4 linked regions of the Homo sapiens genome follow. The protein of the gene in region 1 interacts with the protein of each later gene in a pairwise test. Each region holds a gene or a part of one and is shown in the gene's direction. Other genes may lie near its edges. The genes, in order: ZNF777, CCDC136, FMR1 and FSD2.

What was found.
Region 2: the proteins of ZNF777 (region 1) and CCDC136 interact in a two-hybrid assay, tested with the Homo sapiens proteins (one large-scale study listed by BioGRID).
Region 3: the proteins of ZNF777 (region 1) and FMR1 interact in a two-hybrid assay, tested with the Homo sapiens proteins (one large-scale study listed by IntAct).
Region 4: the proteins of ZNF777 (region 1) and FSD2 interact in binary tests that used the Homo sapiens proteins (3 or more experiments, as listed by UniProt).

Annotation. Positions count from the first base shown.
Region 1 is NC_000007.14:149,451,031-149,454,599, reverse strand, and holds part of ZNF777 (zinc finger protein 777), read left to right. Parts: intron 1-362; coding exon 363-489; intron 490-3,487; coding exon 3,488-3,569. UniProt on the Homo sapiens protein: May be involved in transcriptional repression. Inhibits cell proliferation through CDKN1A/p21 induction by down-regulation of NIBAN1/FAM129A at low cell density.
Region 2 is NC_000007.14:128,815,899-128,819,298, forward strand, and holds part of CCDC136 (coiled-coil domain-containing protein 136), read left to right. Parts: coding exon 1-33; intron 34-1,859; coding exon 1,860-1,961; 3' UTR 1,962-1,966; intron 1,967-3,232; coding exon of another isoform or gene 3,233-3,400. UniProt on the Homo sapiens protein: May play a role in acrosome formation in spermatogenesis and in fertilization.
Region 3 is NC_000023.11:147,918,350-147,921,918, forward strand, and holds part of FMR1 (fragile X messenger ribonucleoprotein 1), read left to right. Parts: intron 1-3,569.
Region 4 is NC_000015.10:82,803,266-82,807,603, reverse strand, and holds the start of FSD2 (fibronectin type III and SPRY domain-containing protein 2), read left to right. Parts: upstream 1-1,534; 5' UTR 1,535-1,638; intron 1,639-4,338.

The DNA of each region.
Region 1 (3,569 bases):
CAGACTCTGTTCTCTAGCCCGGTATGTCTCAAATGTTACTGTGCACATGGATCTCCCCGGGATCTTACTGAATGCAGAAGCTATTTAGTAGGTCTAAGGTGGGGTCTGAGCAAGTTACCTGGTAGCACCATTGCTGCTGGTCCACAGACCATGCTTTAGAGCTGCAAGAATTATATCCTGAAGGGGAGGAAAAGGATCCGACAAGACAGGCCCCTCACTCTTTGGGGCCAGGACAGTGGCCAGACTTCTAGAAAAGTCCTAGGTGAAGGCCCAGAGCCAGGAGTTTGGGCCTTGGGATTGGCCAGCCGTGGGCCTGTCACTGCCTTCCAGCGGGTCTGAGCCGAGTTATTGTGTGGTTTCAGGTCCCTGTCACATTTGATGATGTTGCTGTGCACTTCTCGGAGCAGGAGTGGGGAAACCTGTCTGAGTGGCAGAAGGAGCTCTACAAGAACGTGATGAGGGGCAACTACGAGTCCCTGGTTTCCATGGGTAAGGAGAAGCCTTCGCTCGCTGGGGGCTGCCTGGACGCCAGCTCAAAGTGCATTCATAAACTTAGGGAGTTCTGAACCCCAGCAGAGCCAATAGTTGCAAGCAAGGAGAACAGAGTTGTAGAGATCACAACAAATTAAAGCAAACGCCCTCATATACCCACACACATCAGTGCGGCCCAGGCCAGAATGGCTTGTAAATTGAGACCCCACTCTCAGAGAAGCTGCTGGGGCAAGGAGGAGGAGAAAGACCTAGACATCAGTGGTCTCTCCGTCATCATATTTTTCCCCATGGGGACCCCTTTTTAAATAAATTAGTTTGTCCAGCAAACTATTATTAAGGAAGGAAAAAAGAATGAAAGGAAAGTGTGCTGAGTGTCTCCTGTGTACCAGCCACATTTGAGGTGCTGTACAAGTATCATCTCCTTGGACCTGCACAGCCAAGATGTTGCGGAGGCTAAGACAGGTGTTCACACTCCTGTTCGATGATTCAGGTGCCTGAACACTGAGGCTGTGATCAGGGAGGTTAAATGCTTATTTCATGGAGATCTGCCTTACCCCGAAGTCTGTAGATTCTTGTGATTTTAATTAAGAATATTTAACGATGAAAACCTGGAAAAATATACTTTACTTACATATATATATGTGTGTGTGTATATATATCTGTTTCTCTGATATGGAGAACTTTTTGGGTATATACAAAAAAACGTTATCTTAAACATTTAAATGTGTTGTCACATAGAAACTTTGATTCCAGCTAGAATTGATAATTTTATACATACCTTTCCATAGGATACATTCCCTTCCTTTTAAAATTCTTTTTTCTTTTTTTAATTGTGTTTTTTAATTGTGAAAATTCAACAATTTAAATGATTTATATAATTAAGAGCAACCACCACCCATTCACCAGTACCACTCCCCAGAGGTAACCACCATGAACACTTTGGCCTGTGTTCTCTCTCATCTTTTTTTGCATGTGCAGATATAAGCATGATACATGCACTGAGGCACATGCAGTTTGGGGTTTGCACAGAGGGGCCCGTTTACTTATTTTACCTAATGTAGGGGGATAGAGAGTGTTCCATGTCAGCACACGTAGGACTCCTTGGAAAGACAGTGCAGTGTTCCACGTGAACCATTAGGGCTTTTGACCTGTCTGCTGTTGCTGAAGAGTAGGTTGACTGTTACAAAGTGTTATGATAAACATTTCTGTGTATTTGTGCACTTCTGTGTGTTACAGTAGGACAGATACTAAGAAGTGGGATTGCCAAGTAAACAGGATGCACATTTATAGTTTTATGGCTACTGCCTGGTGCCCTCCAGAAGGCTGAGCCAGTTGATATTTCTGCAAGGGTGTGTGAAAATGCCACTTCATACCCTGGCCTGAGCTGATGTTCTTCTATTTTAAATATTAGCCTTTTTTATAGGTGAAAAATGATACCTTATTTATTTATTTATTTACTTTTTTTTTTTTTTTTTGAGACAGAGTCTCGCTCTGTTGCCCAGGCTGGAGTGCAGTGGCACGATCTGGGCTCACTGCAAGCTCCGCCTCCCAGGTTCATGCCATTCTCCTACCTCAGCCTCCCGAGTAGCTGGGACTACAGGCACCTTCCACTGCTCCTGGCTAATTTTTTTTTGTATTTTTAGTAGAGACAGGGTTTTACCGTGTCAGCCAGGATGGTCTTGATTTCCTGACCTTGTGATCCAGCCACCTCGGCCTCCCAAAGTGCTGGGATTACAGGCGTGAGCCACACGCCCAGCCTACTTCATTTATTTAAATATGTATTCTTTGATGATTAGTGAACTTGTGCATCTTTTTTTGTTTGTTTGTTTGTTTGTTTGTTTTTGAGACGGAGTCTCGCTCTGTTGCCCAGGCTAGAGTGCAGTGGCGCGATCTCGGCTCACTGCACGCTCCGCCTCCCGGGTTCACACTATTCTCCTGCCTCAGCCTCCCGAGTAGCTGGGACTACAGGTGCCCACCACCGTGCCCAGCTAATTTTTTGTATTTTTAGTAGAGACGGGGTTTCACCATGTTAGCCAGGATGGTCTCGATCTCCTGACCTTGTGATCCGCCCGCCTCGGCCTCCCAAAGTGCTGGGATTACAGGCGTGAGCCACTGTGCCCAGTGAACTTGTGCATCTTTTTATATATTTATTGGCCATTCATATTTCTTCTATGAATTACCTATTTATAGCTTTGCAATTTTACTAGTTATAGAAGTTCTTTATGTATAACTATGGATATTAACCCTTTGCCATATGTCAAACATGTATATATATGTATAATATTTCCTCCAAGTTTCTTCATCTTTTAACTTTATTTCCAAAGAACTGCAGACTTATTTTATGTAAGAAAATCTATCGATATTTTATGGCTTTTAGATTTTTATCAGGATTAGTTTTTTGTTTTTTTCTTTTTTTGAGACGGAGTTTCACTCTTGTTGCCCAGGCTGGAGTGCAGTGTGTGATCTTGGCTCACTGCAACCTCTGCCTCCCAGGTTCAAGTGATTCTCCTGCCTCAGCCTCCCGAGTAGCTGGGATTACAGGCATCCGCCACCACGCCTGGCTAATTTTTTGCATTTTTAGTAGAGATGGGGTTTCACCATGTTGACCAGGCTGGTCCCGAACTCCTGACCTCAGGTGATGCGTCTGCCTCAGCCTCCCAATGTGCTGGGATTACAGGTGTGAGCCACTGCACCCGGCCAGGATTAGTTTTTTACCTTACAAAATTTCAAATATCTTCTGCCTTTATCATGAAAACCTGGGCAGGTTTTGACTACCTCTGAGCAACACGATCCCTCTACCCCCCGCCACACACACACACCCACACCCCCACACCCACAGTGGGCTCTTGGGAAAAGAAGGGGAGACTTGGCGGTTTTCCATTGTGGTCTCCAGTCGAGGAGCTGCTCCTGGAATCACGTGCCCACAGATGATACCTTAACAACATCCAGTGCAACCTCATCCCAGAGCATATTTTTTTCCCTTTCTTCTGCCTAGACTATGCAATTTCCAAACCAGACCTCATGTCACAGATGGAGCGCGGGGAGCGGCCCACCATGCAGGAGCAGGAAGACTCTGA
Region 2 (3,400 bases), about 21 Mb from region 1:
AATAACCCCCTCAGACTTTCCGAGAGCAAAAAGGTAACCAGAGCCAAAGCCTAGATCAAGTGGGAAGTGGGGTCTTGGGCTCAGATAACTCCGAGTTAATGGGTGGCCCTGCCAAGGATGGATATCTCCAGGAGTGGAGGCCTCGCGCTCTAAGGCACAACCCTTCGGGGAGGTGGAGATGCAGAAGTGGGAGATGAGAGCAGTCTGTCTGCACGAAATCATGGGCTCAGCCCCGTTTGCTGTGGAACCACCTCACAATGACCACCTTTTCTGGGAACCAGCGTGGGGTCTCTGGAGTCCTTTCATTTACGTAGTAGCCTTTGTTACCTTCCTTATGTCGGGAGTGTTCCCTCATCCCTCTTTTGGCACTGCAGGAAGGACATTGACAGTGTGAAGTCTACTTCAGGCCATTTCTGTCGGTCTGGGCAAGTCACTCAGTCCAGTTTTCCTATGGTGCCCTGTTAGGTTTAACCTTTGTTGTTGCTGTTAGGGGTGTGTCAGGGGATAATCTCTTCTTTGTAGGCTCATGTTGCCCCCTGGATTCTGTATATCACAGGACATGAAGGTGGGGCCTGGAAGTGATCAAGAGTGATAGTGAAAATATTTCACATCTGTACAGTAGGAGCATAGACTAGTCCAAGGAGACCATCCCTAGCCTTAACCCTTCAGTTGCTAGATCATTGAGAGGTTGGGGTGGAGGTATCCTGGGATATATATGCCAGAATGCCAGAGGTAACTTACCAACAATATAGAAGTACTTCCATATTTTAATAACTGGTACGTCTCTGCAGGTATGTAGCAACTGAATTCTTGCCCTGGACTTAACTCAGGGCTCAGAGTCCCTACAGAGTTAGAGTATTTCCTGTGTAAGTCCTCAGCTTACATTACAGGTTCTTTCTGTTCTAAACAGAGGTAAAGAAAAAAAGCCTCTTGTGGTGGGATTATCCAGTCAACTCTGAGGATATCTGGAATTTCCAGCAATTTGGTCTTCAGCACTGGCTAAGGATCCAGTGTGCAGTGCTCTGCTTACCTTGTGCCAGGGGACCATTACCTAAGATGTGGAAAGTCGGAACCACTGCAGCCCCTCCCACTATCATGTTTCCTTGAGCTCATCATATTCCACCACGTGCTGGTTCAGAGCCTCACAGATGTCTTTACCTTCGGTGCCACATTTCTAAAGCTAGACCTGATTTTTCTACTTCAAATATATTCTATGTTTCTATATATGGAGAGATCCCTTTGCCCCGTGGGTCCTGCGTCTTTTGCAGGCAGCTCTAGGGCATGTGTATTACCACCTTGCAAAATCGGTTTCTCTCTGGAAGATTGTTGCAGTGAAAGAACTAGCCCTTCTCCATTGTCAGTTTGTTTCGGTGCATGTTGTCTTACAATGATATCATTAGATTCCTAGGGGATCTAAGGGACCAGAGCCCAAAATACTAAGAAACTTAATGGAAAGCAGGCTAGAACAAAGGGACAGGTGACCTGGTAGAAGACTGGCTCTTCCTAGAGTGACCTAGGAAAAGTCACAAGAAAGGTCTAGATGCAGATACCTCCTGCTTGACAGGATATGAGAGGTATGTGACGAGACAGAAAGAAAACTGGACTCACCGCCTGACTTGGACCTAGCTGCTGCTTAACCCATTCAATTTTGCAATTCCTGCAGACTGCCGGTGGAAAGAACCAAGGCCCAGGCAGCAGAAAAGACATGCAACTGCTCTAGCTTACCTGTTTTTTAACCTCTTGATTCCTTTCTCTTTTCCCTTTGTTTTCTCATCTTCATTATCTGTTGGATCCATGCGTTTATGTCTCACATCTCCTGGTCTCTCCTCGTGCTTCTTTCTCATTTTGGTGTGTTGCAGTCATCCCCTACCCCCAATCCCCCCATCTTCTCCTTGCCTCTTGTAGGCCTGGTGGTCATCTCGGCTTTGCTCTGGTGCTGGTGGGCTGAGACGTCGTCCTAATGCAGGTACTGGTATTGCTTCCTCTCCTTCTGAGGGATAGAGGGAGGGTGCAGGTTGCCCTGGCCTCTCCTCTTTCCCTTTTCTCCCAGCTGCTTGCTTCTTGCTTGTGCCATTTTATAATAGGTGATGCTCAGGTCTGAGTTTTAGTTCTGACTTTTCCTTGGGCTACTGCAAAGCCTCTGACATCTCTGAGCATGTCTTCGTAATGCATAGGAGGTTGGAATGCTTGCCAGAGACATGGTTTGTTTCAATCCTTGGCTGGGAAAAACTTGGATAAGCCCAGCTTGGTTGCTGCTGTCAAAGCTGCCTCACTACTTCTTTATCCCCGCTCATCCTCTGTGTGATGGCTAGCCTGACCACTTCTGATGAGCTGATATTTGCAAGGCTGGCCTGGACTCTCTTTGTCTTGGTTTAACTCCGGAGCCAAGTTCTCACTACTGTTGCTACCCAAGATGGCAAAATAAGGAATCCCTCTTCTGTTGGGAGAGAGAGGAGCTCTGAAGAGCTCTGATCCTCATGATCCTCCCAGGGGCATTGGTAGGAGGGCAACCTAAGCTGGTCCATCAAGCTTGGTGAAATGGAACCGAACCCCTACTGTATTCTGCTCTTTCTACTGAACAGTTCTCTGCTTCTGGACTTCCAGTCTCCGGAAAAGTCAGAACAGAATGCCGGGAAATTTTATTAGTTATCTATTTATCTATTTTGTGGGCCAGATTCCATGGTAATTGGCTTCCCCAGCTAGGTTTTCTGGAGAGAATGAGGTATTAGTGAAAAGTTTCTACTAGCCAGAGATGTGTGTTCTCAGGAAATCAAGACTGATATATTCTGGCCACTTTCCTGTCAGCTCCCACACATGTAATGTACACTGTCAACAGGATACCAAATTCAGGAGGCAGAATGTGGTCTTACGGCCTAAGGTAGAAGCCTGGGGTTCCACCTGCCTTCTGGAACCCATAAGGTATTCTCTCTAGTCCTGCATTGGCTCCTCTCTCATGCTTTCCCTGCCTCCCCCTCCACTCCCCTCTCTTCTCACATTCCTGTGAACGGAATGTAGCTTAATGCACAGGGTGGCAACTGGAGGATTTGTTGGTGGCACTTCTCTCCATTTCCTTTTCTGTCCTTCCTCCTGCTCCCTCCCCAGCTTTCCTGTTACTCATCTTCAAGCCTCCACTTTTCTTCTTGACTTTAGGTATTCCCTTTACTCCCTGGTCCACAACTGCTTTAGTGACGGGGCCCCTCTCTATGACTGTTTCTCCCCTGTCACCCCCCAGAAGTCTTAAGGCACTACGGGTGAAACCCAAAGAGTTCAGCCACAGCCTTCCACTACCTCAGACCCAGCCCGGCCCAATCAGAGGGAGAGGAAGAACTGCTGGTGAAGGGTTCTCCTGGTGGGGCCTGTTATCCCCAGAGCTCCAGGAGGCCCCAACATGCACCTGTGC
Region 3 (3,569 bases), on another chromosome or scaffold:
AGCAGCAACCAAAGGTATTATATACCTTCTGTATTCACTTAAAATGACTGATTTTGAAAAAGTCATGCAAACATCCATTTACAGATAAGCCTCATTAACTCAAAGGCAGTGGCCCTGTTGGGCTCTGATGATTACTCAAACCATTTCTGACACTCTGACACTACATCCGGAAATCATCCGGAAATGCATTCAGAGCCTGCAAAAGCTTTTTTTTTTTTTTTTTTTTTTTTTGAATAGCTACAGCACTTGCAGATCTTCCTCCTTTGAGAGAATATTTGATTTTAGGAAATAAGCAAATGTAGATAAGTATGATTCAACTGGGCAATAACTTTTAGGCAAAGAGAAAAAAACAAAATATAGCAATGTAGTAATAAGGCTGATATTATAGTGCTTTTATGATGAGTCTGAAAACAGTCTCCAACATTTGTAAATGTTTTAAATCGGGTCTGTCTACTACAGTAGCCCTTAAGCCATATGTAGCTATTGAGCACTTGACATGTTGCAAGAGTGAATTGGAGACTGATTTTAATTTTATTTAATTTTAATGTAAGTAGTCGCACATGACCCGTGGCTACTATGGTAGATGGCATAGTTTTAGACAAGGGCAGTAGTCTTGGGTAGATACTTGATTTACTTAGAACATTTCTTTACCTAGCTGTAACAAGGTTCTAATAGCTGATTAAAGGACAACATTTTTAGCATGTAATATACAGTAAGGAACTAATGTTAATTACTGCCAAGATGTATAAACATTATGAAACCTTAAACAAGGATGAACACAGAAGCAGTGGCCCTTCTTTGTAAATAAGGGGTCAGTTACTTCCTAATAGGTGTCTTAGTTTTAGTTAATAATCTAATAGCACCCCCAAAAAGCAAACTGTTAATTTGTTATTAGCCATCCTGTAAAGACAAGGGAGAAATCGGGGCCAGGAGAGTCCTCTTTCCCATTCTCCATAATTTTTACGACCTATAGAAATAAGAGCCTAAGAGTGACCAGTTCCTGCAACCTAACTCAAAATTAGGCCTCTCTGTTGAAGTAATAGTGAGGCAAACAATCCCTTGAAGCACTGGGGCATGCACCCTTATGAAATCTAATAATTCTAAAATATCATTGGCAGTATTAAGCTAGAGTTCTCAAAATATGCTGTAGAAAATATTGGTCATTTAAATATAGCTGAGTAAAAATAAGCAAGATCAAAATGATAAGAAAATGTTGATTTCTCCCCTTTTGAACCAGTAACTAACTATAAGGGTATATACCCATGCTTAACTTAAAAATAATTATTTAGCCACCTTGGGTATAGCACAACATATGGATGCCATTATAGTCCACCTTGATCTTACAAGGAAGCTTTCTTTTAGCGTAGCTTTACTTTTATTTAAGCATTATTGAAGAAGCTTGGTATCTCTGTTTAAGTTGCTTCTGTATCAGTGTTTTCCAGGGCCCTGTCTCAGCTTCCATAGTTTTTCTTAAGAGCAGCTAATTAATGCTTCACTCCATATGCTTTAATTTGATATTTTGGGAAGTTTCATTTTTTAAAATAATCTTTTTATATCATAGGCCTTTGAAGACATATTTGTTTACAAAGACATCTGCATTGAACCATTTGTTTTTAAAAACATGTATCGGGCATGTTCTATATACCAGAAACTATGCCATTTACTGAGGACACCGAAGTTAGAGAATGGTCTTAATCCGAACTAGTTATTGTCTCACTATCCAATATGGATATCAAACATTCAGCGTCATGAGGATTTACTACTGTGTTTTCTCCCAAGAGTTTTATAATTTTAGCTCTTATATTTAGGTCTTTGATGCATATTCATTGATTTTTTTTTGTATGCAGTATGAGGTAAAGGTTGAAACGTATTCTTTTTGCATGTGGGTGTCCACTTGTCCCAGCTTCATTTTTTGAAAACACTATACTTTCCCCATTGAATTGTCTTGGCTTCTTTGTTGACAAAGGATTTATTATTTCTGCCACAACCCAGCTGTTTCTCACTGTCTAAACCTTTATGCCTGCTGCCCCGTAGGCTTAGTGGAATGCCTCTCCATCCTCCACTCTCTTTTGTTTAGCTAGTACTTCCTTATCCTTTAAGGGGTCAGTAGGAACCTCACCTTCTTCAGTATGTTTTCCTTTGTCTTATCAACCTACCACCATCACCCACACACATACCTTTTCCCTAAGGCTGGGATAGGAACCTCTTAGGCAATGATCTATTTGATAAGTACTCACTGAGTTCATACTAGACACTCTGCAGTATATCCGTAAATGAAGTAAAACCTGACACCACCCTCAGAAAACTTACTGTTAGTGAGAAAATGGGCTATAATAATAGAGTGGGGTAAGTTTATTGTAGGGATAAGCATAGGATGCTATGAGAATGCAGAGGACAGGAATTTAACCTAGACTTCTCAGTTCTCCCGTTGAAGTTGACATCTGAACTGAAATCTGGAAGACCAGTAAGAGATAGCTATGTAAAAAGAGGGGAAGGACAATAGGAAAGAAGGAATGGAGAGAGGCCCAGAAACTACAGAGTATGGCACAAGTAGTTTAGCATTGTTGGGTCACAAATTCTAAGGATATGAAAGATAAAGTTGAAGAAGTGGTGGGGCTGGGGAGGACAGCTCCTGTAGAGCCTTTTACAGCGGGAGAAGGAGTTTGGCTATGGTCCTGCAGGCAGGGAGAAACCACTGAAGGGGAGAAACATACAGAATAAATTTGAGTAAGAAGCTTAAATCTCCCCAAGCCCTTTTAAAATAAATTAAGATATAAAGCCTTTGGGTTTCTTTATGCTTTGTCCTATTCTTCTAATTGTCCAAAACAAAACAAAAACCTTCCTTTTCTGTACCTATTAAAAGGTTAATTTTATAAAGTTACAGACAGCATGCTGATTAAAGAATTCTTGATAATTAGCTATTTTGTCTGTCTTTGTGTAGATTACTAACAATTGTGTCATCAGATTTAAAAGATCTAAACCTCTGGACTTTATATATTTTTTCTACAAGTACTGTGAGATTGAGAACTTAATTCAACTCTAGTAACTGGACTTTTTAGTGTTGTTTGCAGCATATGATTGTTAAAGAAAGTTTAGTATATTTGTGTGTGCGTATATATATATATATAGATAGATAGATAGATTTGAGGTTATATTTAATCATTGACTATTGGTATTCTAAGATTTTAAGGAGAGAAAGGTAGGTTACAATATATGGCTGATATATGGTTCTGGAACAATTTTCTTAGTTTTCAGTAATTCTACCTAAAATGTACGTCCAGCTTTGCACTCACTACCACATTGTAATTTCCAGTATACTTGTCTATTTTTCGAGATGTTGAAATCTGTGGAGAATTTTTTCTCATGTTTAGTGTTTTAGCTATGTTTATCTCTAGGGTATAGCACATACAAGGTGGCAATATAGATGTGCTTAATGAATAAAATGATCTTCAAAAACTGACCTTCATTTGAAGTTCTATTTTATTCATAAACACATAAAACGTTTGGTATCACTGTAAAATTTAACTAAAAACAAAAACTATCTTTAAGCTCACAAGTTAATTTAACGT
Region 4 (4,338 bases), on another chromosome or scaffold:
ACTGCATCTTCACATGGAAGAGCTCTCTGGGACCCCCAATGTAATGGCACTAATTTTATTCATGAGGGCTTGCCTTCATGACCTAATCACCTCCCAAAGGCCACATTTCCAAATACCATCACATTGGGGATTTGGTTTCAACATGGGAATTTTAGGGGAATATAAACTGTCTATAGCATATGTATATATATGTATGATGGTTAATTTTAATGTGTCAACTTGATTGGGTCACCAGGTGTTTAGTCAGACATTATTCTGGGTGTGTGTGTGTGATGGTGTTTCTGGATGAGATTAACCTTTGAGTTAGTAGACTGAGTAAAACTGGTTGCCCTCCCTCATGTGAGTGGGCCTCATCCAATCGATTGAAGGTCTGAATAGAACAAAAGCTTGAATAAGAGGGAATTCTTCCTGCCTAACTGCCTTCAAGTGGGAATATGGGTTTTTTTCCTGCCTTCCAACTCAAATGGAAACATTGGCTCTCCAGGGTCTTGAGCCTGCTGGCCTTTGGACTAGAACCACACCATTGGCTCTCCTGGATCTTCCGCTTACTAACTGCAGATCTTGGGACTTTTTGGTCTTCATAATTACATGAGTCAATTCCTTATGATAAATCTGTTTCCATATATGTATACATTCTATTGGTTCTGTTTCTCTGGACAACTCTGACTATTACACTGTGTGTGTGTGTGTGTGTGTGTGCGTGCGTGCATGTGAGAGAGAGAGAGGAGAGAGAGATTATACTGTTATGCTGGTCTGTGGGCTCAGCATCAAAGTAGGAATTTTGCAACACACCCACAGTTAACACTCACTTTTTTCCTCAACACCTAGACTCTTTCAACTTCTTAACAGAGTCAGAATTTTGGAAGAAAAGAACATTAACACTAAATTGTCATTTTATAAATTATTAAACTAAAGCTTAGAGAAATAGTCAATCATAGTCCATAAGGAATGTATTGGCTGGATAGTCCCATTTCTATGCCATACCATGGCAAGTAAAAAAAAAAAATAATAATGTTTGCTTAAGGCTTATATGGGAAGTGTGTCCTGTGCTTTGATTAGAAAAGTGCCCCCAAAATGTTTTTTAACCTTGTATGGTTCATGAGCACCTCTGAGAATCTATTGAAACCTGTGAGTTCTCTTCCCGGAAGTGATTCTATAAGGACACAGACATAATTTTGCATATAATTTTAGAAACTCATTCACTTAAAAAAAAAAAAAAGGAATCTTCTTCCTGGTCTTGCCGTGACAGTCCCCAGCCCTCTCCACATGACCAGCCATCTGAGACCCATGGTAGAGCCACAAGTCTAAAACCCCTCACAGCACAGAAAGTAACTCAGAGCACGGCATGTGACCTCTCCTGGTGACACTTGAGTAGTAAGAAGTGGCAACTCAGCCACAGCAGGTCTATATTTGGACCTTCACTCATGGCAGGCCTGTTGCTATTTGTGGCTGCAGCCAGCTCATGTTACCATCCAGCTTTGGTGCCCCACTTGCAGAACTCTGGTGTAAAATAGGCAGGGGTAGCCTGTGGGGCATGCAGAGGTCACTAGGAAGGAAAGCCTGCTGAACACAGATTCAATTTTCTAGCAGAACTCCAGGTCCTCTGAGTTAAAGGAAGCATTTATGGACGCTTAGCAGGCAAGTTTTGGGGTAGTCATATTCTTCCAATGCAAATTGTATTATTAGAAACTCAATGCTGCAATATTAATGCAATATCTTTCCTGTAGGTGGGAAGAGATATCATGGTAAATTGCAGATGTTTAAATTACAATAAATAGTGTAAATGTTTTCTGTGCCTTCTTAAAGCAAGAATTCGCATTAACTGAACATGATGTTGGGACAGGATGTGAGAGGCTCTGATGAAGGCAGACAGGGGCTGGTGATTCTTATAATGTGTCTTTAGGATATCTGTAGTGCTGGGACCCATTAGTTAGAACCATTTGGTAGAACAGTTTGGAAATATAGATGTTGAATATCATCTGGCTATACTATTGTGTTGTAAATACATTTTATTTAATCTGTGTGTACATGCTGAAAAATAATAACTTCATGCATTGATTCAAATACTAAAAAACAGCATCGTAATTATTTTTCACTTGTTATGCATACAGCCTCCTCCTATAGAAAGTTTTCAGGTTCGGGCAGTGTCTGCAAAGCTGATTTGAATCATTTCATATCACTGTAACACTTTAAGGCAAGCTTTCTTTCACTGCTGTGGCTCAGGAATTGCCAAGGGCTGCATGGAAGAGCTAAAATTATAGGCAAAGTTATGTTCCTGCCCTTATGGAATCACTTCTGGGAAGAGAATTCACAGGTTTCAGTAGATTCAGTAGATATGCCCATGATCCATAAAAGGTTAATAAACAAGCCAAGTGAGGTGGCAGATTGCATGAGCCCAGGAGTTCAAGACCAGTCTGGGCAACATAGCAAGAACCTGTCTCTAAAAAAAAAAAAAAAAAAAAATTATTGGGGGACTTTTCTAAGTAATGCACAGGGATACACCTCCCATATAAGCCTTAGACAAACATCTTTTTTATTTTTTTTAACTGCTTCCCTTGGCATAGAGGAAAGGGTATCCAGCAAAGACATTCATAATGGACTATGACTAATTGCTTTACTTCTCTAAGCTTTAGTTTCACCATTTATAAAATGACAGTTTATTGTCAACTTTCCTTTCTCCCCAAATCCTGATTTTGTTAAGAAAGAGTCTAGGTGTTGAGGGGAAAAGTGACTGTTAACTGTAGGGTGTGTTGCAAAATTCCTACTTTGACACTGAGCCAGTTTGTGTTGAGACCACTTTGTGTTGTGTGTTCGAAGGGCAAGTGCCAGCTTGAAAGCATGTGTTCTTATCTGTATTTGCACTAAGTGTTTTCCAGTCTTCTGACAGTTCAACTTGGTGTTTCACATTCCAGCTTCTGGTTGAAATAATTTCTCATGATGATTTATTGGTCATACAGAATCCTGGCTATTTCCCTTTGGGTAGCACATGGGAATGTAAGCATTATTTTAGTGAACTGCTCCTCTGTCTGTAGATGGTGTGATTTAATGGAAACCTGGGTTTGAATCCAAGCTCTTCACCTGACTGGTTGTGTGTCAGGTGAAAAGCTTGGATTCAAGCACAGGGCTAAATACAGAGTAGCCCAGATACATTTTTGTAAAAGAAAATTGGCTATAAGCAAGTCCTTTATCCTCACAAGATCTCAGTTTTGCCATCCTAAAATCAGGAATTTTTTTTAAACATCCATGACCTGCTGAATAAAATCAGGAAATTGAATTAGATGCTCTCCAAGGGACCTCCATCCCTAGAATACCATATCTCTGCCTGGGCCCCCTGGGAGAGGAATGATCTCATAGCTGATGTCTGTGCGTGGTTATGAGGCTGTTCTGCTTGGTGCCTTCTTTCATCATCGGCTGTTTTCAAGGGACAAATATTCCCACAGTAGCCATGGATGATTCCACACTGCTGTGGTCACTCTCCATGAGTGACTAGGTAGAAGGCTTCTAGCCCAGGTGGGAGATACTAAGGTAGGAATCATGATAATGATAGTAAGAACAACAACAATAACAGCAGCTAACACTTACTGAGGACTTACTTTAAGCTATGTACTATGCATAAAGTACATTATGTTATTTCATCTAAATGCCAACCTTATGAGGTAGACACTGTTAATAGAGCTGTTTTATAGTCCATTAAAGTTAGGCCTAGAGAGATGATTTTCCTGAAGTCATACTTCCAGGATGTGGCAGAAACAATGCAAACACAGGACTCTCTGAATCCAGAGGGCAGTGATCTTGGGGAGCAGGGAGAGGGGACAGGAAAAGGGATATTACTTAGAGATTCAAGAGGTAGAGTCAGAATCAGCATGAATTAGTTATTAATTAGATTGGGGGTGTCAAGGATGAGCTTCTGGTCTCTGGTTTGGTGCTGGAGGGGGTGGATGTCATGCTCTCATTCATGGATAGTAGCAATGCAGTGGACTTCATGGAGGGCCATGTTGGATGAGTATGGGGTTTAAGAAGCAGTGGTGAGATAGGGAAGAGTGGGAGCTCTCAGCAGGCAGGACAGTCTGAGCCAGGGCCTAGGGTGAGTCTCACATGGAAGACCCTGAGCGCGGCCAGAAGGAACAGAGGGTTACCGCTAGGGAAGGTGGGGCTGCTTGGGGAGTATAGAGCTATGGCATGGGGTGGGGGATCCCTGGTGCCCAGGAGAGTTGGGACTTGCCAGTAATGGAGCCCTCAGAATGCACGATGTGCAGATGTACCACTTCTGCCTGAACAAAGCAACATATGCTGTATAAGCTATGCTGCTATCCTGGGCAGGGACACCCCTGAGGAAGG